Homo sapiens: one gene and its partners. The protein of the gene in region 4 interacts with the protein of the main gene of each other region in a pairwise test. Each region holds a gene or a part of one and is shown on either strand. Other genes may lie near its edges. The genes, in order: RCN3, STXBP4, UBQLN4, KLHL42, SSX2IP, ADD1 and KRTAP19-4.

Region 1 (3,500 bases), on a different chromosome or scaffold from region 4:
AGGGGCCAGGGACTCCGGGTAAATGGGTTCAGGGTTCTCAGAATGAGGCGGTCCAGAAGGTCAGGGTCACGGTGTATGGGGAGCAGGGTCGGGGGCTCGCCGCGTACCGGGCGCGTAGTGGCCATAGGTGGCGTTGCGCAGCTCCTCCCAACCCACACGCCCGTCGCGGTCCGTGTCGTACGTGTCCCAGGCCGCGCTCACCGAGTCCCGTATGTGCCGCTGCTGCGTGTGCGCGATCCACGCGCGAAGCTCGGCCAGCGACACCCAGCCGTCGCCGTCCCCCGCGCGGTCCATGCGGTCCACGATCCGCCTAGAAGCCGGGGCGGGCACACGTCAGGCTCTGGTCCCGCCCCCAGGCCCCGCCCCTCGCACGGGCCACGCCCCCTGGGACACTTCGGATCCGGGGCTGAAAATACAGTCCACGGTCCGCGGGCTAACTGGGGAGGGGCGCGGGTCAATTTCGGGACCAAGCCCACCGGAGGACCCTACCCCTCAGCCTAGGGTCCACCCCCAGGTCGAGTCACGCCCTTCTCCAGAACGAGCGGGCCTGCTGGGAGCACTGCGGGGGAGGGACCTACTACGATGCAGGGCCACCCTCTCCGCGCCGGCCCCGCCCTCGGCCTGCACGTGCTGCACCTCTCGCTGGGCCGAGCTGGGGTGGTGAAGGGGAGCGCGGCGTCGCACTGTGACCCTTGCCAAGGGGGCCCTGTTGCAAGATTGACTCTGAACCCAGACAGCCACGGCCACACCCCCGATCCCCCGCTGTCTCAGGCCCCGACCCGCCCCATGCCCCTCCCCCTTACCAGGCTGCGCGTGTCAATTTCAGGCTCCTCTCCCTCCAGCCCTGCCCTGTGCTGAGCCCCGTGGCTTTCCCCTGCCTGCTCCCGGCTGAATCAGGCACTGCCTGAGGACCATCACCCGCAACCCCGGGGGCTCAGTCTCCCTCTGCCCCTCCCCATGCTCCTCCGGGCTCCTGTGCCCCTCCCTGTCGCATGTCAAGCCACTTTAGGTTCCATCTCTCCCCTTCTCTTGGGCCACGCCTATCAGCTCTCGGGCCCCTCTCCTCTCCCTTGGTGACGCCTTGCCAGGCCGGTCCTCTCCCAATCTCTAATTAACAGAGACTACCTGGAGCCCTCCTCCCTGTCACCGTCCCTAGGCCCCCGCGGCCCCCTCCCTAAAGTCGAAAATCCGAGACAGCAGAGCCCTCTCCAGGCCTGCCTGAGTCACCGCCCCACCTCCCGCACCAGGCGGTCTCTGCTCCAGTCTGTCTAGGGCCCCACTCTGTCCCCGGAATCACACCCTTCTCTGAGGTTCCTGGTGTTGTTAAGCGCTTGGGCTCCACAGCCAGACATTTTAGGTCCAAATCCAGCCACTTCCTCTTACTGGCTGTGTGACTGTGGGCAAGTGACTTAACCTCTCTGTGTCTCAGTTACCCCTCTGTAAAACGGAGGAAGAAAAAACGGTACCTACCCCAAAAGGGCGGTTGTGGGGAATAAATGAGTTAGGCCATGTAAAGCACTTAGGACAGGACAGGCGCGGTGGCTCACGCCTGTAATCCCAGCACTTTGGGAAGCCAAGACAGGCGAATCACTTGAGATCAGACGTTCCAGACCAGCCTGGTCCACATGGTGAAACCTTGTCTCTACTAAAAATACAAAAATTAGCAGGGCATGGTGGCACGCACCTGAAATCCCAGCTACTCTGGAGGCTGACGCGGGAGAATTGGTTGAATCTGGGAGGTGGAGGTTGCAGTGAGCCGAGATAGTACCACTGCACTCCAGCCTGGGCAACAGAGCGAGACTCCGTCTCAAATAATAATAACAATAATAGGCCGGGCACGGTGGCTCACGCCTGTAATCCCAGCACTTTGGGAGGCCGAAGTGGGCAGATCACCTGAGGTGAGGAGTTCCAGACCAGCCTGGCCAACATGGTGAAACCGTCTCTACTAAAAATACAAAAAGTAGCCGGGCACAGTGGTGGATGCCTGTAATATCCACTACTCGGGAGGCTGAGGCAGGAGAATTGCTTGAACCCAGGAGGCGTAGGTTGCAGTGAGCCGAGATCGTGCCACTGCACTCCAGCCTGGGCAACAGAGTAAGACCTTGTCTCAAAAACAAACAAACAAACAAAAAACACTTTGGAGGCCGAGGAGGGCGGATCACAAGGTCAGGAGATCGAGACCATCCTGGCTAACATGGTGAAACCCCGTCTCTACTAAAAATACAAAAAATTAGCCGGGCGTGGTGGCAGGTGCCTGTAGTCCCAGCTACTCGGGAGGCTGAGGCAGGAGAATGGCGTGAACCTGGGAGGCGCAGCTTGCAGTGAGCCGAGATCGCGCCGTTGCACTCCAGCCTGGATGACAGAGTGAGACTCTGTCTCAAAAAAAAAAAAAAAAAAAAAAAGGCCAGGCGCCATGGCTCACGCCTGTAATCCCAGTGCTTTGGGAGGCCGAGGTGGGTGGATCACGAGGTCAGCAGATCTAGACCATCCTGGCTAACACGGCGAAACCCCGTCTCTACTAAAAATACAAAAAAATTAGCTGGGCGTGGTGGTGGGCGCCTGTAGTCCCAGCTACTCGGGAGGCTGAGGCAGGAGAATGGCATGAACCCGGGAGGTGGAGCTTGCAGTGAGCCGAGATCACGCCACTGCACTCCAGACTGGGAGACAGAGCGAGACTGCGTCTCAAAATAATAATAATAATAACAATAATAAAGCACTTAGGACAATGCCTGGCATTGCCATTAGTGCTAAGCTAAATGTGCTAACCTGTCACTGCCCTTCTTCCTCCATTTCTCCTTCATGCATGCCCATCCAAGCACAATCTCCCAGCCAGCAGTCCTGGGGACCACTGCCACTGTCTCCACCCTGATCTGACCACCATCTTGTCTTGTCTTCCACCTGGACTATCGCAGTCGCTTCCTCACTGGGCTCCCTGCTTCTTGCTCCCTACAGTCTGTTCCCCACCTCGCAGCCAGCAGGATTCTCTCAAAACCTAAGTCAGCTCATGCCCTCCCTCAGTTCTACTCTCAATTGGAGAAAAGCCTAAATCTTCATCGTGGCCTAAAAGGCTTTGCATTGCATGATCTGACCCCCTTTGCATGGTCTCAGGCAATCCGCCCGCTTTGGACTCCCAAAGTGCTGGGATTGCAGGCGTGAGCCACTGCACCTGGCCCTCTCTCTTTTTGAGACAAAGTCTTGCTCTGTTGCTTAGGCTGGAGTGCAGCGGCATGATTTTGGCTCACTGCAGCCTTGACCTCCCAGGCCCAAGTGATCCTCCCTCCTCAGCCTCCCTAGTATCTGGGACTACAGGAGCACGCCACCATGCTGGGCTAATTTTTGTATTTGTTTTGTAGAGGCGGGGTATCACTATGTTGCCCAGGCTGGTCTTGAACTCCTGGGCTCAAGTGATCCCCCAGCCTTGGCCTCCCAAAGTGCTGGGATCACACACATGAACCACCATGCTGAACCCCTTTGCTCCTTCTCTGCCCTCACCTCCCACT
Region 2 (3,500 bases), on a different chromosome or scaffold from region 4:
TTTAAGTTATTCTTTATTTTTTGAATGGCTTACAACAAGGATATATACTTTGATATATTATTTGGATAAAGAAGGAAAAATATCAAAAAAGTTACCATGTTCCAGTGTACCTTCTTGGCATCTAAATATCAGCTCTTTCTAATTATGTCTCCTTTAATGTCATTTTACCCTTTATGTTATTTTCTTCTTTCATCTTCATTTGCTAAGGTATCAACAAATGTTGCAATTTAAAAGAGAAAATAACATAGATCTGGTGTTTCACAAAGAAATTCAGCTACATCCTTTAAATAACTTCTTATGACAACTCCTTTGTAAGCAAATTGACAGGCAGTAGAAATAAATACACTTATTTTCTGCTATAATTTAAAAAGAAAGATGACTCATAGCAAAGAAGCTCATAGTACATATTACATAGTACATATATTTCATGTTTTTTTTATTGCATTGGGAAGAGTACCAGTCCAGAGGGTAGATGCCCACTAGACATATGACTTTGAGCAGCCACTTACTCTGCTCCCTAGTCTTCATATGTACGATGTCAAAATCATTCATAAAATGATCTTTAAAGGTTCTTTCTTGGCTCTACAAATCAAAAATTTTATGGCAGGCTTATTAAACTACAAGTCTCCCAATGTTTTTTGAGGGAACGATTTTCTTTTTAAAATATACGTCCACCTCTAAGATCAGTATGACCCATGAATGGGATGGGGTAGGCTGCAGTTGGTCATTTGGGAGGGATTAGAGTGGAGGGAAAAGTGTACTAGTGTAGTGACATTTCACATTAAGGTCATTTCAAAAGAGGAAGAGGGCACAATGATGTTGGCTGCTCAGTAAATAATCTGTCTGGTTTCTGTGGACTGACAAGTTAGAAATGCCTACTATTTATTTATTCACTAAAGCTAATATTAAAAATGTAAATATTTCTTCCTATAAAGTTGGATGTATTATACTTGAGGAGACACAAAAATGACAGCATTTAGAAACTGGTAACTTGTTTTATACCTTATCACAGCAGAGATTCCTCAAGATAACATCAGCTATTTATATAATCCTAAGGTTGTTTAAGAAAATTGGCAAAATCAGGAATGACTATTTTCCCTGGGCTAAACTTAACTGATCATTTTTAAATGACATGAAAGTTTCAGGAAACCAATATATAAAAGATCAAAGAGTTATAGTCATCCCTCAGTATTTTCAGGGAACTTGTTCCAGGACACTGCAGATACCAAAATTAGAAGATATTCAAGTCCCTGATATAAAATGGTGTAGTATTTGCACATAACCTATGCATATCCTCTCCTATATTTTAAATCATCCCTAGATTACTTATAATACAAAACACAATGTAAATATGTTATGCTATATTATTTAGGGCATGATGACAAGAAAAAGTGTGTACATGTTCAGTAAAGACACAGCCATTGTAGGCCTAATGTTCATTTTCAATCTGTGATTGGTTGAACCTGTGTATGTGGAACCTGCGGATACTGATGGCCAACTGTATTTTATTATCTTTTATTCTGTACCCAAAGGCAATATTCTGTTTACTAGTGCATGTTTTTTTCTTTCAAGAATCTAACGAGTTCAGAAATGCTACTCATTTGTCTTGGGGGTGTTACCAAAATGCCAGGGGTTCGGTTTAGGTCCTGTTGCTCACTACACAGAAAACCAATCACTGAAAGGAGTATTGCCAGGGAAGAAGGCTTTAACTGGGTGCCGCAGCCAAGGAGATGGGAAATTTGTATCCCTCTCCCTGACGAGCTAAAATTAGGGGCTTATATGGCAGGGAAAAAATGTAAGTATGTGTGGGAAAACAGGAATTAGGGAGGGGTAAGGAAGAGGAGTTGGTCAACAGGTAGCAAGTGATTGGTTAGGCCAGCAGTCCCCAACCTTTTTGGTACCAGGGACCAGTTTTGTGGAAGACAATTTTTCCACGCATGGGGGTGTGGGGGATGGTTTCCAGATGAAACTGTTCCACCTTAGATCATCAGGCATTAGATTCTCATAAGGAGCATGCAACCTAGACCACTCATATGCCTAATTCATAATAGGGTTCTCACTCCTGGGAGAATCTAATGCTGCCACTGATCTGACAGGAGGTAGAGCTCAGGTGGTAATGCCCACTTGCCCTCCACTCACCTCCTGCCGTCTGGCCGGGTTCCTAACAGGCCATGGACGGCTACTAGTCTGCAGCCTAAGGACTGGGTACCCCTGGGTAAGGCAGTCATGATGGCTGAAGGGTCTGGTATCATATTGTCCAGATGCAATGATCTGGTAAGTTTCAGTTTCTTGATAGTATCTGGGAGGCCTGATGGTTGGTTTCCTGAGAAAGTAACTCAGATAAGACAAATTTAACTTTCTCAAGTTTTAACAATGGGAGAATCAATTTCTGTGCTTATTCAAAGAAATGATTAATATCAGTTCTATGGGACAATTGGTCCTATTTCAGGATGCATAAGCATCTGCCTGTAACACACAGCCCAACTCAGTGGGAAACATCAGAAAACTACTTCAAAGAAAGTCTTAGTCTTCTTGAAAGGAGTCTTCATCAGCACAACAGCTCACTGCTCTCAGAAGTTTCCTTAGGCTACCGGACTGCCTTCTGTTTGCTTTCATTCATGCATTCATCCACCAAATTTTTAACTCAGTACAATTATGTGCAGGTACAACACTAAGGGCATGTGATATTATGGTGAACAAGTCAAGATCATTGCTCTTTTGGTATTTACATTCTAGTGGTGGGAGAAAAACAATAAAAAAAAGATACAATTAAATGAACTAGATTTCAGATATTGAAAGGTGATAGCAAATGTGACTAAGGAGAGAAGGGCTAATTTAGACTGGGGAGGGTGTCCCAGCTAAGATCCAAATAATAAGTCATCTGTGAAAAAAGCTGAGGGACAAAGCATTCCAGGCAGAGAAAAGGTCTGAGGGCAGTAAAACAAACTTGAGGTGTTTAAAGAAAAGAAAGAAGTGCAACTGGAGTGTGGTGAACAGGGAGAGAGTGGTAGGAGATAAGGTTAGAGAAGTAGGCAGGGTCTGGATTTCCTAGGGTCTTATGGGCTATGGTAGCAAGTTTGGAGTTTTGATCATATTTCACTTAACCTGACTATTCTCAGGAGACCTGAATTTGCCTTTCCCTTTATCTCTTACCTTTAACCTTCTAAAGGTTAAAAGTAAAGGCTCTAAAGGCTCTCCACTTTTGTACTTTCCCTAGTTTTCTGCCTTTGCCTTTAATCACATAATTAAATCACGTAATTAGACTGTGCTTTGGCCTGAATCATGTGAGACTGTCTGTCAGTGCATTTGAGATATAATATTGTGCCTATATCTGTATCTGCATCTCTATCTATATTTATATCTATTTACATCTTGACCAGGACTGGCTGCATAAATTGCAGGGCCCAATACAAAATGAAAATGCAAGGCCCCATGTTAAATAATTATTAAGAATTTTTAGCAGGGCATGGTGGTATGCGCCTGTAATCCCAGCTACTACT
Region 3 (3,500 bases), on a different chromosome or scaffold from region 4:
GCACTCTAGCCTGGGCGACAGAGTGAGACTCCATCTCAAAAAAAAAAAAAAAAAAATTCACAAGTTACACAAAGTAAACAAAAGGGTATTCCAAAAAAGTATGGAAAAGTATACAGGCTAAAAAAAGGTTTACAGAAGGGATCCCTCTGTTTCCATCTCCCAGCCAGCTCTTTTCTACCTCAGTGGTAACTAATGTTGTTAGTATCTTGTTTATTTTCCTAGACATATTTAATATTTGCAAATAAGACATAGGTAGAGTTGTAGCCTTTACAAACCCCTCCCCTCTCCTATTCTTTTTCTTTCCAGAGGTAACTAGTATGCTGAAGTTGAAGTTGGGGTTTATCATTCTGATTCTTTTATTACCTATGTATATGTCTATAAACGTCTATATATTATCATATTTTTAAATATGAGGTGGTACCATGCTGGTCTTATTATTTTAACTTGCTTTTGTTTTGAGACAGAGTCTCACTGTTTCGCCCAGGCTGGAGTGCAATGGCGCGATCTCAGCTCACTGCAACCTCCACCTCCTGGGTTCAAGCGAGTCTCCTGCCTCAGCTTTCTGAGTAGCCGGGACTGCAGGCTTGCACCACCACGCCTGGCTAAGTTTTGTATTTTTTAGCAGACACAGGGTTTCACCATATTGGCCAGGCTGGTCTCGAACTCCTGACCTTGTCATCTGCCTGCCTCGGCCTCCCAAAGTGCTGGGATTACAGGTGTGAGCCACTGCACTTGGCTGCTTTTTTTTTTTTTAATACAACCTTTAAAAATGTTTTGTGTTTTTGGTTTGTTTTGTTTTTTTGAGACGAAGTTTCACTCGTTGCCCAGGCTGGAGTGCAATGGCGTGATCTCAGCTCACTGCAACCTCCGCCTCCCGGGTTCAAGTGATTCTCCTGCCTCAGCCTCCCGAGTAGCTGGGACCACAGGCGCCCGCCACCATGCCCAGCTATTTTTTTTTTTTTTTTGTATTATTAGTAGAGACGGGGTTTCACCATGTTGGCCAGGCTGGTCTCGAACTCCTGACCTCAGGTGATCCACCCACCTCGGCCTCCCAAAGTGCTGGGATTATAGGCGTGAGCCACCGTGCCCGGCCTAAAACTGACAAACTTTTAAAATATTTGTTTCATTTAAAAATGACAATTTATTACAAGTTGGTGGAGCGTAGTGGCGCATGCCTATAATCTCAGCATTTTGGGAGGCTGAGGCAGGTGGATCACCTGAGGTCAGGAGTTTGAGACCAGCCTGGCCAACATGGCGAAACCCCATCTCTACTAAAAATACAAAACTTAGCCAGGTGTGGTGGTGGGTGCCTGTCATCCCAGCTTCTCAGGAGGCTGAGGCAAGAGAATTGCTTGAACCCTGGAGGTGGAGGTTGCAGTGAGCCGAGATTGTGCCTTTGCACTCCAACCTGGGCAGCAAAACGAGACTCCATCTCAAAAAAAAAAAATTATTACAAGTTAACATAAATAACATTATTTTGAAAAATAACTTTATTTTCCAAAACAAACAAAACTGTAGAGGAAAGTATGGACTTGTTTTACATTTTTGTAGTTCTCTTTGATGTCTAGCTTACTACAAGACAGCTGGTTCTCAGATCTGCATTCAGTTTGCAATGTCACATGTCATGTAGACTTTGGAAAACTCCACTGTATCCTCATGAGAGAATAAGAGTGAAAAAGACAAATTCATGTCTTAGAATTATGAAAACAGTTTTAATGCTTGCAGGGGTCCCAGGACCACACTTTGAGAACTGTTGTATTAGAGGAGTATTATAAGCATTAGAATAAATGTGTCAGGCACATAGTAGGTGCTCAATAAATGATGGTTGTTATCACTGTGGGTAGTTCAGGAAAAGAGATTTCGTCCTTAGAGTGTACCAGGAAGAATAAAGCGAGCCCAGAACAAGGTGGGGTGAGGTGCTAGGCAAGTATCAGAACAAGAAATCTGAAACAGGCACAGAGGCTGAAACCATGGTGCATGAACCCTGGCCTGTGAGCTCTGTTATCTGAACAGGATCTGGTGAGGTGAAGGAAACAGCTCAGAGTAGGAGAATCCTTGGTTAGCCCCGGTCCCCATGACCCACTTTCAATGAACAGGAAAAGCAGCTCAATATGAAACCCTACGGTGGGGAGGGGCTGAGGTAGGACCACCTGGGAACTCAGGAAAGAGAGCTGCTGAGCTCTTAGACCACAAGAAAGGCTGAGTAGGGAAAACTGAGTCTGGGACTCCCTCAGCCAGAGCTCTGTGCTAGGTGCTGGAGGGGAGGAGGTTCCGGTGTTGCCTTTGGGAAGCACACCATCCCATGGGGTATGGACCTGAGATATCCTGGGGAGCACAGTGAGGAGCATGGTAGGGCAAGGGGGACCAGAAGTAAACTGAGGCCTGTCCATCTGAAGTAGCCAGTGTGTAGAGGTAGGGTTTGGAGCAGGAGGGGAAAACCTAGAGAGGGCATATTCTGCTGGAGGTGTGTTCTGCTAGGGGCCGCCACTGTGGTGTGCCTGGATGGACAGAGAATGCCAGGTAGGGGACCTGGGGAGTGAGGGAAAGGTTCTGGGGAGTTAGGATTAGTCCAAGGAGGCTGGGGAAAGGGAAGATCGGGGTTCAAGTAGAGAGCCAGGTTTGACAGCCCACTCCCATTAAGCCAGTAGTTAGTTATTGAGCACCTACTAGTGTCGGGGCTGGGGGTGCACAGGCAAATCTGACATTGCCTCTGCCCCTTGAGGTACAGGAACACAAATATTTGGCTACACAATGGGAAAACTGTGTGTAAAGTGCGGTGGGTTACATAGGAGATGATTAGAGACCAAATATTGAAAGCCACCGGGGGGATGGGAAGTTTCCAATTATCTGAGAGGTTCAGTTATCCAGTCACTAGCATCAGCTAGCTCCCACCCTATGGAGCAAGGAAGGAGCTATCCATTGTGGGGCAAAGAACTGAACTGAGGACCTCTAAGGTCTTAGATCTCTCTCCCTTTTCTGGGGAAGGGGAGGCTATTAAGTGAGAGGAGAGAATGGGCCTAGCCCTTGTCCCTGATTTGTTTCAGTCCTTAACCCAAAACCTTTCCCTCCTCCCAGTTTGGCAACAATCCCTTCTCTTCCCTGGCCGGGAACTCCGACAGCTCATCCTCCCAGCCTCTGCGGACTGAGAATCGAGAGCCCCTCCCTAACCCCTGGAGCCCCTCGCCCCCCACCTCCCAGGCCCCCGGGTCCGGTGGGGAGGGCACCGGAGGATCGGGGACCAGCCAGGTGCACCCGACAGTCTCGAACCCCTTTGGGATCAATGCGGCTAGCCTGGGGTCAGGTATGTCCTAGGATGGAAGGAGCTTAGTGGGGTCACCAGGGCAGCCCCTCTGTCCCAGGACTGAATGGGGTTCATACTGCTCCAGGATTTTGAAGACAGAGGTGAGACTATCGAGGCCACAGAGGGGGCTCTGCCGTCTGGGATAGTGGCCGGGTGAGGGCTGGTTCTGGCCATGTCCTGATATCCCTAGGAGTGACCT
Region 4 (3,500 bases):
TCATTCAAATTTCTGTTTTCTAGTGTTTGAAATAAAGGTGCTAGACCAAGTGAATTTCAAGACCACATCCAACCCCAACACAATGATGTCTTCAAAAATAATAATATACTAAGAAAGAATGGAGGTAGAGGCTATGCACACACAAAAAACTTATATAAGGGAGTAGATTAAGAAGAAGCAGTAAACAAGAAGCCCATGCTTGATCCCCTAAAAAGTGTTCAATAAAACTGATGCATTACACTATGGAAACTAGGTTAGTAATAGGCACCTACTAAACAGTTAAGATTTTTTAAAGGTTCCTATCATGTTTATATCTAAATGTGTTTTAGTTTGTTTTTCCAATCAGAGCGTGAATAGAGTACTCTTCATCAAGAGCCTCGTCTTGTCCCTTAAAGCCAGCCAGCCAGCCAGCCAGCCCACTTTTTTGTGCCAACAGACGTCAGGGTGGCAGGTACTGGGGGGTCCCTGATTCCTGCTGCTTACCTTTCTTGCTGCCAATGGTCCTTAAAATCCAACCATGATGCCCTCTCTGTGTGTGCAAATTTGGGGAACCAAAGGAAATAAAGCTTGTAAACAAGCACTAAATTTTCCCAGCCGCAATTTGTTTTTGCTCCCCAAAGGTACACAGATAGTAAATTTTGTAAGATCAAAACAGTTTTTAGTATTTATCCAGCATAATCATTTGTCCTAAGCAAACATGTAAGGGGCTTCTTTTTGAGACCAATGAATAGGCAGTTAAAGTAAATGATTCCATCTCTCCAGACCCCAACACGCTCAAATTCACTTGAAGAGAAACACTTTTTAATGCTGAATTTGTTTTAAGATGAAATTGCCACCTAAAAACAGACCATTTAATAAAGAGGCATACTGCTAAAGGTTATGAGTCCAGGCTTACACAGGGAAGTCTCAGACATCACACATCAATTGCTGTCTGACCTTAGACAAATTACTGAATCTGTTGATCTGTTCCTCAGTTTTCTCATCTGTTAAGTAGGGATAAGAAGGGCACAATATCTGGCATGCAGTAAGAGCTGAAAAGGACAGCACTTGCAGAGATAAGTCTTTCTCCATTGGCATTCTAGGGAGTGCTTCTCTGGGTGTCCTAAGTCTAAGTTTTTCTTAACCTTGGGAGCGTTGGTTTCTCATTTGTCAACTGCAACAGTCACTGACTGTGATGTTTTGTGCTCTCTCATCCACAAATTCTCATCACTTACTGCTTCATTTCCAACTTTCTGAAAATAATTCTTCCACTCTTCACCTCCTGAATGGTAAAGGTATAAATTCAAGCTATCAACTACTTTTCAAAATTATCATCTCTACAGTGTTTTCTTAATTTAACACACTATGTTCACGAGGTAAAAAGAAGAATTTCAAGACCAAGTAACAAGTCATCTATCATAGCTATATACTTGTTCCTTGCAATAAATAAAAATATTATCATTAGAATTTCTGTTTTAAGTGAGAAAATTGGATAAAACCACAATTGAATTTCAAGGTCACTTATAAGAAAAATTTTTTTTAAAAGGAGAGCTTTTTAAGAGACAGGGTCTCGTTTCATTGCCCAGGCTGGAATGCAGTGGCCTGATCATGGCTCACTGCAGCCTTGAACTCCCAGCCTCAAGCAATCCTCCTGACTCAGCCTCCCAAGTAGCTAGGCCACCGTGCGTGGCTTAAAAAGCTCTTTAAACCCCTAAAAGCTAAGTAACATGAAACATGCTTAACACCAGCACGCAGATCTCAAGGATTAACAGTAGCTACATACAACCATAGGAAGGCAAGATGACACAGAGGTCTGGGTGGCTTCGAGTCTAGCCCTGTGATTATGTGGAAGGTAATTAAACTCACTGAGCCTCAGTTTCCACTTTAAGGAAATGGGATTAATAACATCTACCTCACAGAGATGTTGTGAGCATTAATATGAAGTGACACCTCAAGTTGTGACTACAATACCTGACCCAGAGTAAGAGCTCAAGAAATGAAAACCATCATTATGACCCCCTATGTAGAGAAAGAAGTTTGCTTACCATCAGAGTAAAAATTAGAACAAAATGCCAAGATCCTTTCAAAAGTCCTTTCTCAACCACTCAGAACACGACTGCTTAAGTCTGTGGGCCATCCAGGTCCTTTTGTCTCCTCTTTCCCCTTCATCTACTTGCCTTCTGCCATGTCCCTACGCATTAACTTCCCCTAGGGACTAGGAAGGGGAGAAGGGGAAAGGTTAGAAAATAGAGGTAGTCATTGTTGCAACCTATGCCCAGCTCTAAGAAACTCCAAAAGCAAAGATGCAAAAAGCAATTTAAACTGTTGGCCAAAATTAAATGGGGAGTTGGGGGGGAGTGTGAATAGACGTACAGTTTTCTTTCTTGCACTATTCCCAGGCTCTACTACAACATCAACCACAGAAATGCTCCAAAAATGGTAAACATTGGCTGAGAGGAGAAGGGACAGCTCAGCAAACGCTAAGGCTGACAACTGCAATTCCATCTCTGCCAGGAGACACTTGTTTATTAAAGTCTCTCTCTCAGCCTTGCTGTATTCACACATGGAACAGGAGGACTCACTCCAACTCCATTTTCAGAGCTAAAGTGCAGGGCAATGGAAAAGACTAGAGAAAGCTCTGGAAATGGAGAACCTTAATGAACCAACTGCTGCAACAGTGGTCAGTTCCTGCAAGTTATCACTGATTAAAGGGAAAGCAAGCACCCTCGATCTCACAAGCTTTTTTTTTTTTTTTTTTTGAGACAAAGTCTCACTCTGTTGCCCAGGCTGGAGTGCAGTGGTCTGATCTTGGCTCACCGCAACCTCCCCATCCCGGTTTCAAGCGATTTTCCTGCCTCGGCCTCTCAAGTAGCTAGGACTACAGGTGCCCACCACCATGCCCAGCTAATTTTTGTATTATTAGTAGAGACAGGGTTTCACCACGTTGGCCAGGCTGGTCTCGAACCTCTGACCTCAGGTGATCCGCCTGCCTCAGCCTCCCAAAGTGCTGGGATTACAGGTGTGAGCCGCCGTGCCTAGAGGTCTCACAAGCTTTTATGTGTGAAGAGTTACATCCTGACAATTTGTGAGATCAAACCCACGTTCAGACCATCAGGCAGTGTTGCACACTTGGCCTACAGAGCAAAACATTTCTTTTTTACCCTCTGATGGTCATATAGCACCCACTATCTTCTCCAGAGTGCAGAAGGCTTTATAAAATCTCTCAATTGGCCGGGCGCGGTGGCTCATGTCTATAATCCCAGCACTTTGGGAGGCCAAGGCAGGCAGATCACGAGGTCAGGAGATCGAGACCATCCTGGCTAACACAGTGAAACCCCATCTCTACTAAAAATACAAAAAAAAATTAGCCAGGCATGGTGGCGGGCACCTGTAGTCCTAGCTACTCGGGAGGCTGAGGCAGGAGAATAGCGTTAACACGGGACGCGGAGCTTGCAGTGAGCCAAGATTGGGCCACTGCACTCCAGCCTGGGCGACAGAGCGAGACTCTGTCTCAAAAAAAA
Region 5 (3,500 bases), on a different chromosome or scaffold from region 4:
TATTACAGACTCCTACAATCTGTTTTCAATATTATAAAACAGTAATCTTTTTAAAACTTAAGACTTTTTTTCACTCTCTTGCTTAAAACTAGTGTTTTTTCTATTCCCCTTAGAACAATATTTGACCTGCAAATGCACACTAAAATATTCTGTAAATGAAATCCCAGATGTGTTGGGGCTGGGGTGGAGAGAGCAAGCAGAGTGGGATTATATATGAACAATATTGATCAGAGTTAATAATTGCTGAACCTGAGTCATAGGTACACGTGGGTTCACGATCTTATCCTCTCTGTATATTTGAACTTTTACATCTCTCCATCCTCATCTCACACCTCTAGGTCTTGGTCACCATTGCAAATGTATGAGGTGTGTCCCACCCTCAGGGTTCCTACACTTGGCTAGAGTGCTCTTACCTAGCTCTTTTTCATCCCCTCTAACATTTACTTGGAGTCCTAATCCCCCCACCTCTTAAAAGTCAACTACAACTTATAGTGTGTTCTCCTCCTTCTTTTAAAAGCTTCCTTTCTTGTTTTAAACTCCATCTATTTCATAATTCTTGGCCCAAGGGCCAGCTGGCTTCTTCGACACTTAGTTCCACTCCAGTCTCTAACACAGGCCGAGTTTGCTTCAGCTCTGACTGTTTTCCAAGGCCATTATCTCCTACTTTTAATTAAGAGCAAAGAGATTACCACCATACTTTCCAACTTACCCCTCTGATCTTTTCTATTCCTCTCTGTCTTACTAGGAATGTTCTACCTGCTTCCTCTTCTTCGTTTAAAACTAATCTTGGAATTGGCACTGAAGCAGAGTATTGATCTTATCTTAGAAAATGATATAATAACTTGAGATACAGGAAAACACCAAAATGTAGCAATTAAGAGCAACATATGGGTTTCCCAGGGTGGAGAGCCATGTTTTTTTACACTGTCATCCTTGGGCACAAATCTTTTTCACTCAACAGGAACAGGCTTTTCTCAGTTCTTTGCCCTTCAACAACAATAAAATGGGCATGCCGGAAAAAAGTGTTAAGATATGTACTCTACAAAAACTGTCAAAACAATATCCTTCCATTTAATACAATTAAAGTGCTTAAAATATTAACTCCTATAATTAAGACTACATTCTAAATTGTATCTTAAATGTGAAATAAAAAGACACACATCATATGATTTACCTCCAAGAAGACAACAGATCTACCTGTTCACTAGTGTATTTCCAGCATCTAGCACAGTGTCTATATATACTGGACACTCAATATTTGTAGAATGAATAAATCATCTACTAAATTCCTCTCCAAAATCTCTATTGTTGCTAATACTACAGACATGCCACCTTTCCCTTAGCAGTGCAACTTTAGCAATTTTTAGAAACACGTGAAAAGATCACCTATAGACAAATACCTATGTTCAGATATGCAGGAACGTGTCTGGCAAAAGTCTGAAGTGGAAGGTGAAGCAGGAAGAGATTTAGTAAGTTTAGACATGCAAACTGGAGACCCATTAGACACACTGTGAGGCTTCTTTTGCGGCTGCCTCGAGTGCACTATAAGATTGTCCCAATCAGAACCTGTTGTAAAACAAGTAAGAGAAAAAGGCAGTACATATGGTGAGGCATTAAATATAGTGAAGGTAAATCATCAGGATGATTCATCTGCGGTTCTGAGTGAGGAAAGAGATGGAACAAATTCAAATTAATTATCATTAATCTTGCTTATCTTTGTTGCATAGTCCACCCATGTTTAAAAGGATCTTTTTTTTTTTTGAGATGGAGTCTTGCTCTGTCACCCAGGCTGGAGTGCAGTGATGCGATCTTGCCTCACTGCAAGCTCCACCTCCTGGGTTCACGCCATTCTCCTTCCTCAGCCTCCCGAGTAGCTGGGACTACAGGGGCCCGCCACCATGCCTGGCTAATTTTTTTGTATTTTTAGTACAGACGGGGTTTCACTGTGTTAGCCAGGATGGTCTCGATCTCCTGACTTCGTGATCCACCTGCCTCGGCCTCCCAAAGTGCTGGGATTACAGGCGTGAGCCACCGTGCCCAGCCAAAAGGATCTAGTTTTAAAAATATTTCTAGGCTGGGTGGGGTGGCTCACACCTGTAATCCTAGCACTTTGGGAAGGTGAGGCGGAATGACTGCTTAAGCCAGGAGTTTGAGACCAGCCTGGGTAGTATAGCGAGGGCTTGTCTCTACAAAAAAGTTTTTAAAATTATCTGGGTATGGTGGTGTGTGCCTATAGTCTCAGCTACTCAGGAGGCTGAGGCAAGGAGGATTGCCTGAGCCCAGGACGCTGAGGCTGCAGAGAGCCGAGATGCACTCCAGCCTGGGTGACAGAGCAAGACTACATCTTGAAAAAAGAAATTCTCAATGTAAATTTTCAAAAACTTCGCATTATTACAAACTCACAACAAAAGTTACTTTGGGCATGCACAGTCCCCCTCTCATCCTCACTTTCACTACAGTAAATAAAATATTAAAGTTGATTTTTAGGCCAGGCGCAGTGGCTCATGCCTAATCCCAGCACTTTGGGAGGCTGAGATGGGTGGATCACCTGAGGTCAGGAGTTCAAGAACAGCCTGGCCAATATGGTAAAAACCCGTCTCTACTAAAAATACAAAAATTAGCCAGGCGTGGTGGCACATGCCTGTAATCCCAGCTACTCAGGAGGCTGAGACAAGATAATCGCGTGAAGCTGGGAGGCAGAGGTTGCAGTCAGCCAAGGTCACGTCACTGCACTCCAACCTGGGCGACAGAGCAAGACTCCGTCTCAAAAACAAACAAAAAAAAGTTGACTTTTAGTTATAATTAGAGAGCTCTAATTGGTGATTTCCAAAGTTTTGTATTAATAATATGTAGTATTTTGTAATATGTAAATAATTTTATTTATATGCATGTTCAAATTAAAGAGTTTATAAAGTACTCACTTCCTGAGAAGGCACTGAAAAGTTTCACATTTTCTGAGTTCTGGTGGTCAAAGGTAGTCATATTTAGAAACTGCTGCTTTAACCAACTGGCTCTTTCTTCTTCAAATGCCTTTCTCTACCATAAACAGCCAAAGAAATAATGATCAATATTTCAACATCCACACAGTTGCCATTTCACATGATTGCTCTAGCTATCTTTGTTTGCTCTCTGGCTATCTATTCGTACTTCTTATGTCAAATGAGTTAACCTAAAAAACTAAAAATAATTTCAGCACTCGTCTGTAATCCCAGTATTTTGGGAGGCTGAGGGTTGGTGGAGCACTTGAACTGAGGAGTTCCAAACCAGCCTAGGCAACACGGCAAAACCCTGTCTCTACACGAAATACAAACATCAGCTGGGCATGGTGGCACAGGACTACAGTCTCAGCTACTTTGGAGGCTGAGGAGGGAGGATGGCTAGAGGCTGGGAAGTTGACGCTGAAGTGAGCCGAGATAGCACCACTGCACTCTAGCCTAGGTGACACGGCAAGACCGTATCTCCAAAAAAAAAAAAAAAAAAAAAAAAAAAGCCGGGCGCAG
Region 6 (3,500 bases), on a different chromosome or scaffold from region 4:
GTGAGCCAAGATCGCACCACTGCACTCCAGCCTGGGCAAGAGAGTGAGATTCAGTCTCACAAAAAACAAAAAACAAAAAGATTTGCCTATTGAAGACATTTCACATAAGTAAAATCATGAAGCACATGGTCTCTTGTGTCTGGCTTCTTCCACTTAGCATGTTTTCAGAGTTCATCCATGTTGTACCAGGTATGAGTGCTTCAATCCTTTCTATTGCCAACTACTATTCCATCGTATGAACAGACCACATTTTGTTGATCCACTCATTAGCTGATGGACATCTGGGGTGTTTCACTTTTTGTCTGTTAAACATAATGCTGCTCTGAACATTCACACACAAGCTTTTGTACGGACATATGTTTTCACTTGGCCTTTGCATTCTCAAAGTGTTTTCACAACATTCTCTCTTTCATGTATTACATGGCTACTTAATTTTCCGATGGAGAAAAGTGAGGCTTGGGGCAGCTAAGTGACTTTCTCACCCACTCAACTACCCTCAGCAAACCACAGTAAACCCATAGTGAAGAGCCAGTACTCCTTTCATAATACCACACTGCCTATGGTTACGGCTCCCTCTCCTGTGAAATAAATTTCAAGCGACAGTGTGCAGATGAGGGAAAACATTTTTTAGGTAAGGAACTCCCTAAATCATTCTCAATACGTTAATCCACAAAGCAAATTTAAATTAAGCCCTTCAGAGTAAGAGAAGGAGAGAAGTGTTTGGGATGGGATATTCTAAAGGTCCCTCCCAAATGATGACTTTCTCCTCCCCATGCAAACAGCCACAGCTGCCATTCCAGGCTGCAGAGGCACACATGTAGTTACATCTACTGCGCCCCATTCCTGAGGCATGCCCTTTCCAGCAAATTTGAGATATACCTGTGGACTCTGTCCCCTAACGTCAGCCCCAGATGCCAGACTCCCTGGGCCCAAGGCCTAGATGCAGAGCTCGTCTGTTCTAATACAGATAACAGTATTTTGGAGGCATATATTGCTCAGATCAATTGTATGAACCCTCTTTCCCAACCTCATGAAGCACTGTCTAGGTTTATAATATTTCTGGTAATAAAGTTCAGAAAAAAACAATAATTATATTAATAATATAAGTCATTTGCTGACAGCTTAGTAGGTACCTTTTGGCATTTACTTCATTTAATCCTCACAATAACCATGTAAGATAGGGACTATTGTTACTTTAGTGTCCATACTTAATTATGTGGAGAAAATACACAGTTGGTAGGAGTATAAACCAACGTAACTTCTTAGGAGGATAATCTGGAAACATCTACGGAAAGTAAAAGTGTAATTACTCTTTGACATGGCAATCTCACTTCTGAGAATGTATCTATAGATATACTTCATAGGTGCCCAAAGATGGAAATGTAAGAATATTAATTGGGGCCAGGAGGGTAATTTGGAAATGTCTATGCAAATGAAAAGTGCAATTATTCTTTGACATAGCAATTTCATTTCTGAGAATGTATTTATAGATGTACCTCATAAGTGCCCAATATGGAGATGTAATATTAATTGGAGCACTGCTTATAACAGTAAAAACCTGGAAACAGGTCAGGTGCAGTGACTCATGCCTGTTATCCTAGCATATTCAGAGGCTGAGACAGGAGGATCACTTGAGACCAGGAATTCAAGACCAGCCTGAGCAACACAGCTCAGGCTTTTGAAACCTTATCTCAAAAAAAAAAAAAAATTAGCCAAGCCTGTTGGCATGAACCTGCAGTCTTAGCTACTTCAGAGTCAGAGGTGGGAGAATGGCTTAAGCCCAGGAGTTCAAGGCTGCGGCAAACTATGATCACATCACTATATTCCCGCCTAGGTGACAGAGCAAGAGTCTGTCTCAAAAAAAATAAATTAATTAAATAAATATATGCTCAACATGTTTAAGCTGACAGTTATCAAAAACAGTGTTACACATTAGTTATAACAACTGTTTAAAAAGGTACTTCTAGAAAAATTAAGCTCAAAAGGCAAACTGTATTAAATGTGCTTCCCCTCATTCCTTTAAACTCAAGGTTCCTCAATGTAGAAAGGCCAGAATAAGCATTAACAATTAAACAACTCTATTAAAGTTTAATATTATGCTATGTTAAGATTCCTATTTTTTTTTTTTTTTGAGACGGAGTCTCACTCTGTCCCAGGCTGGAATGCAATGGCACGATCTCAACTCACTGTAACCTCCGCCTCCTGGGTTCAAGTGATTCTCCCGCCTCAGCCTCTTGAGTACCTGGGATTACAGGCATCCACCACCAAGCCTGACTAATTTTTGTATTTTTAGTAGAGACAGGGTTTCATCATGCTGGCCAGGCTGGCCTCGAACTCCTGATCTCAGGTGATCCACCTGCCTCGGCCTCCCAAAGTGCTGGGATTACAGACGTGAGCCACCATGCCCAGCCTTGCCTCCCACTCTATTCAAAGTCATCCCTTTGCTCACTGAGATAGATGCATATCTGGTTGCCTCCTTAGGAAAGGCTTATCAGAAACTCAAAAGAAGGCAACCATTTGTCTCTCACCTACTTGTGACCTGGAAGCTCCCTCCCTGCTTCAAGCTGTCCCCGCCGTTCTGGACTGAACCAATGTACTTCTAGCATATATTGATTGATGTCTCATGTCTCCTTAAAATGTATAAAACCAAGCTGTGCCCAACCACCTTGGGCACATGTCAATCAGGACTTCTGGAGGCTGTGTCACAGGCACACATTCTCAACACTAGCAAAATAAACTTTCTAAGTTAACCGAGACCTGTCTCAAATTTTCGAGGTTCACGTGTTCATCTTGTTCTGAGACTGAAATGTGTACGGTGTGGGTTGAAACAGTGAGCAAGTAGAACCAAAATGTTTGGCTTAGAAGAAAAGTAGATACAGGTATATAAAAATGAGAAGGTTGAGTAGAATCCTAGTCTTACTTCCTTTTTTTTTTTGAGACGGAGTTTCGCTTTTGTTGCCCAGAATGGAGTGCAATGGCACTGCGACCTCCGCCTCCTGGGTTCAAGCGATTCTCCTGCCTCAGCCTCCCTAGTAGTGGGGATTACAGGCATGCACCACCATGCCCAGCTAATTTTTGTATTTTTAGTAGAGATGAGGTTTCACTGTTGTCCAGGCTGGTCTCAAACTCCTGACCTCAGGCGATCCACCTGCCTCAGCCTCCCAAAGTGCCGGGATTGTGAGCGACCGCACCTAGCTTGTTTTTTGTTTTTGTTTTTGTTTTTTTGAGACGGAGTCTCGCTCCGTGTCGCCCAGGCTACAGTGCAACGGAGCGATCTCCACTCACTGCAAGCTCCGCCTCCCGGGTTCACGCCATTCTCCTGCCTCAGCCTCCCGAGTAGCTGGGACTACAGGCATCCGCCACCACGCCCAGCTAATTTTTTGCGTTTTTAGTAGAGACGGGATTTCACCATGTTAGCCAGGATGGTCTCGATCTCCTGACCTCATGATCCGCCCGCCTCGGCCTCCCAAAGTGCTGGGATTACAGGTGTGAGCCACCAC
Region 7 (2,095 bases), on a different chromosome or scaffold from region 4:
TGGGTCTTACTAGCTGGCTGTATAAACCTATTCTTATGTTTAGTAAACAAGTCTGAGTCTTTCTAATGCTTCTTAATTTTTTATACCATTTGAATTTATCATTATTTACTAATAACTTTTATTTAGATCTAGATATGCTAGAAATTAAGAGGTTCAAGATTCATCAAAATCTTAAATAAAAAGAGGCATATACTGTGAAAAGTAGACTAATCTTCAAAACTCAGCTGTGATTGTTACACGAATATAAGACCAGAATTTTAAGATTATTGGGAAGCATCAAGAAAAGAAATATGCAATGGAATTGAGAGTCAGCATTTAAACAAATAGACAAATAAATAAACAGAAGCCATGTGTGCCATTTCAAATTGAGACAATTTATTGCAAAGGGAACTAAGCAATTACACAGTTAGGAAAGTATAGGTAGTGGATGCCAGTAGACACGATATAGGCAATTATAACATAATGAATATTCCTAACATCTTAGATGCTATTTTTTTTCATCTTGGATTGATCTAGTGTGCCCTTGTTTGACTCAATATTTGGTTAAATTGAATGATCTTCTTATGACCTCTGATATCGTGTCCTCAGGGTAGGATTTCAGTAGAATTGAGAATCCATATCCTCCATAGCATGATGGGCGGCAGTAGCCATATCCGTTGCCTCCAAAGCCACAGCCATAACCCAGTCTGCGGAAGCTGCCACATCCACAGCCATAGCCATAGCCTAGGCCACCAAAGCCTCCACAGCCATAGCCCAGGCCTCTGTAATAGCTGCCATAGTAGCTCATGGCGTCAGGAGTGGTGAGTTGTTTGGCTGCTCAAGGCAAGATCCTAAGTGTGAATGGCAGCACGTGTAGAGGGAGGCTTATATACCCTGATAAGAGTATGTGATGAGTCACATGCGTACCTGTTTTTTTTGTTTTTTTGTTTGTTTGTTGTGTGTGTGTCTGTGTGTGTGTTTTAAATTAGTTACTTAACACAAGTCATTCATTTTTCCCTGGCACAAGGAGAGGCCCTCACAATCGTTAAATTGTTTGAGTTTGCTTTGTTGCTGAATTGGAGTGGCCCTTAAAAGTTATCACACCACTTAATGAGAAGAAATTGCTGTATCTAAAGTCTTGGCATACCAGATCCTAAATAGATTTCTTCATAGCTAGACATATTGCATATTACAAATGAAATAAAATGAAGGTTATATGTTCCTCTAAAGTCAGATGCTATTGGAGCTCATTTCTTTGTCTTCTTTATTTTGCCCAGACTGGTCTCAAGCTACTGGGCTCAAGTGACCCTCCTCCCTCGACCCCCAAAGTGCTGAGATTAGAGGCATAAGCCACCTCACCCAGCCTTCATTTCATCTTTAAATCCCTATTGTTCAGATGTAGCCAGAGAATTACTCATGCCTTTGAGAGGCATAGACTTTAGAATTTATTCATCCTTTCAGCATTTATGTATTGTGTTGTTACTACAAGGTAATTATTGCAAAGAGGCATGCAAATTCAGTTGTGAAAGCACAACATTTGGAAATTACTTATAAGACTAAAAATAACTGATCACTGTATTTGAGATCATATAAGGTTAAAAAGAACTTAAAAGCTCAAAGTTGAAATTAAGGGCACAGCTGAATTAACAATATTTGGGGTCACCTGTGGCTGTATGTGACTAAATTCTTGGAGTCAACTGAGGACTTGCACCCTCAGTTATTTCTTCTGCCTGTTATCTTGTAATATTATACCTACATTTTGGAGATTCTGAAAACATTTCTAATGTTAATGGTATCTTATTGAATTTCAAAGAGCCCTTATATTTAAATTATCTTTTTATATATCCTATACCTTAATAAACATTTAACAACTTAGTGGACTAGCATGGTATTTCCTGAGAAGAAAAAGGTGTATGTGTGTGTGTGTGTGTGTGTGTGTGTGTGTGTGTGTGTGTGTGTGTGATGAATTTGATGAATTTTTGCATATGTGCTTACACTACCTACACCAAGCACACTCTAATCTCCAAAATGTTTCCATTGTTCCATTATGGCAAATATCATTCCCTAGAGATAATCTTCTTTCCAGTTTTTAACAACAGCTTCAAAAGATCTTGTC

What was found.
Region 1: the proteins of KLHL42 (region 4) and RCN3 interact in a two-hybrid assay, tested with the Homo sapiens proteins (one large-scale study listed by BioGRID and IntAct).
Region 2: the proteins of KLHL42 (region 4) and STXBP4 interact in a two-hybrid assay, tested with the Homo sapiens proteins (2 studies listed by BioGRID and IntAct).
Region 3: the proteins of KLHL42 (region 4) and UBQLN4 interact in a two-hybrid assay, tested with the Homo sapiens proteins (one large-scale study listed by BioGRID and IntAct).
Region 5: the proteins of KLHL42 (region 4) and SSX2IP interact in binary tests that used the Homo sapiens proteins (3 or more experiments, as listed by UniProt).
Region 6: the proteins of KLHL42 (region 4) and ADD1 interact in a two-hybrid assay, tested with the Homo sapiens proteins (one large-scale study listed by BioGRID).
Region 7: the proteins of KLHL42 (region 4) and KRTAP19-4 interact in binary tests that used the Homo sapiens proteins (3 or more experiments, as listed by UniProt).

The regions. Positions count from the first base shown.
Region 1 is NC_000019.10:49,531,003-49,534,502, reverse strand, and holds part of RCN3 (reticulocalbin-3 precursor), read right to left. Parts: intron 311-3,500; coding exon 108-310; intron 1-107. UniProt on the Homo sapiens protein: Probable molecular chaperone assisting protein biosynthesis and transport in the endoplasmic reticulum.
Region 2 is NC_000017.11:54,975,265-54,978,764, reverse strand, and holds part of STXBP4 (syntaxin-binding protein 4), read right to left. Parts: intron 1-3,500. UniProt on the Homo sapiens protein: Plays a role in the translocation of transport vesicles from the cytoplasm to the plasma membrane. Inhibits the translocation of SLC2A4 from intracellular vesicles to the plasma membrane by STX4A binding and preventing the interaction between STX4A and VAMP2.
Region 3 is NC_000001.11:156,043,799-156,047,298, reverse strand, and holds part of UBQLN4 (ubiquilin-4), read left to right. Parts: intron 1-3,075; coding exon 3,076-3,301; intron 3,302-3,500. UniProt on the Homo sapiens protein: Regulator of protein degradation that mediates the proteasomal targeting of misfolded, mislocalized or accumulated proteins.
Region 4 is NC_000012.12:27,786,733-27,790,232, reverse strand, and holds part of KLHL42 (kelch-like protein 42), read right to left. Parts: intron 2,195-3,500; exon of another isoform or gene 2,025-2,194; intron 1-2,024. UniProt on the Homo sapiens protein: Substrate-specific adapter of a BCR (BTB-CUL3-RBX1) E3 ubiquitin-protein ligase complex required for mitotic progression and cytokinesis. The BCR(KLHL42) E3 ubiquitin ligase complex mediates the ubiquitination and subsequent degradation of KATNA1.
Region 5 is NC_000001.11:84,648,962-84,652,461, forward strand, and holds part of SSX2IP (afadin- and alpha-actinin-binding protein), read right to left. Parts: intron 3,037-3,500; coding exon 2,922-3,036; intron 1,567-2,921; coding exon 1,401-1,566; intron 1-1,400. UniProt on the Homo sapiens protein: Belongs to an adhesion system, which plays a role in the organization of homotypic, interneuronal and heterotypic cell-cell adherens junctions (AJs).
Region 6 is NC_000004.12:2,846,844-2,850,343, reverse strand, and holds part of ADD1 (alpha-adducin), read right to left. Parts: intron 1-3,500. UniProt on the Homo sapiens protein: Membrane-cytoskeleton-associated protein that promotes the assembly of the spectrin-actin network. Binds to calmodulin.
Region 7 is NC_000021.9:30,496,324-30,498,418, forward strand, and holds KRTAP19-4 (keratin-associated protein 19-4), read right to left. Parts: upstream 843-2,095; 5' UTR 788-842; coding exon 533-787; 3' UTR 501-532; downstream 1-500. UniProt on the Homo sapiens protein: In the hair cortex, hair keratin intermediate filaments are embedded in an interfilamentous matrix, consisting of hair keratin-associated proteins (KRTAP), which are essential for the formation of a rigid and resistant hair shaft through their extensive disulfide bond cross-linking with abundant cysteine residues of hair keratins.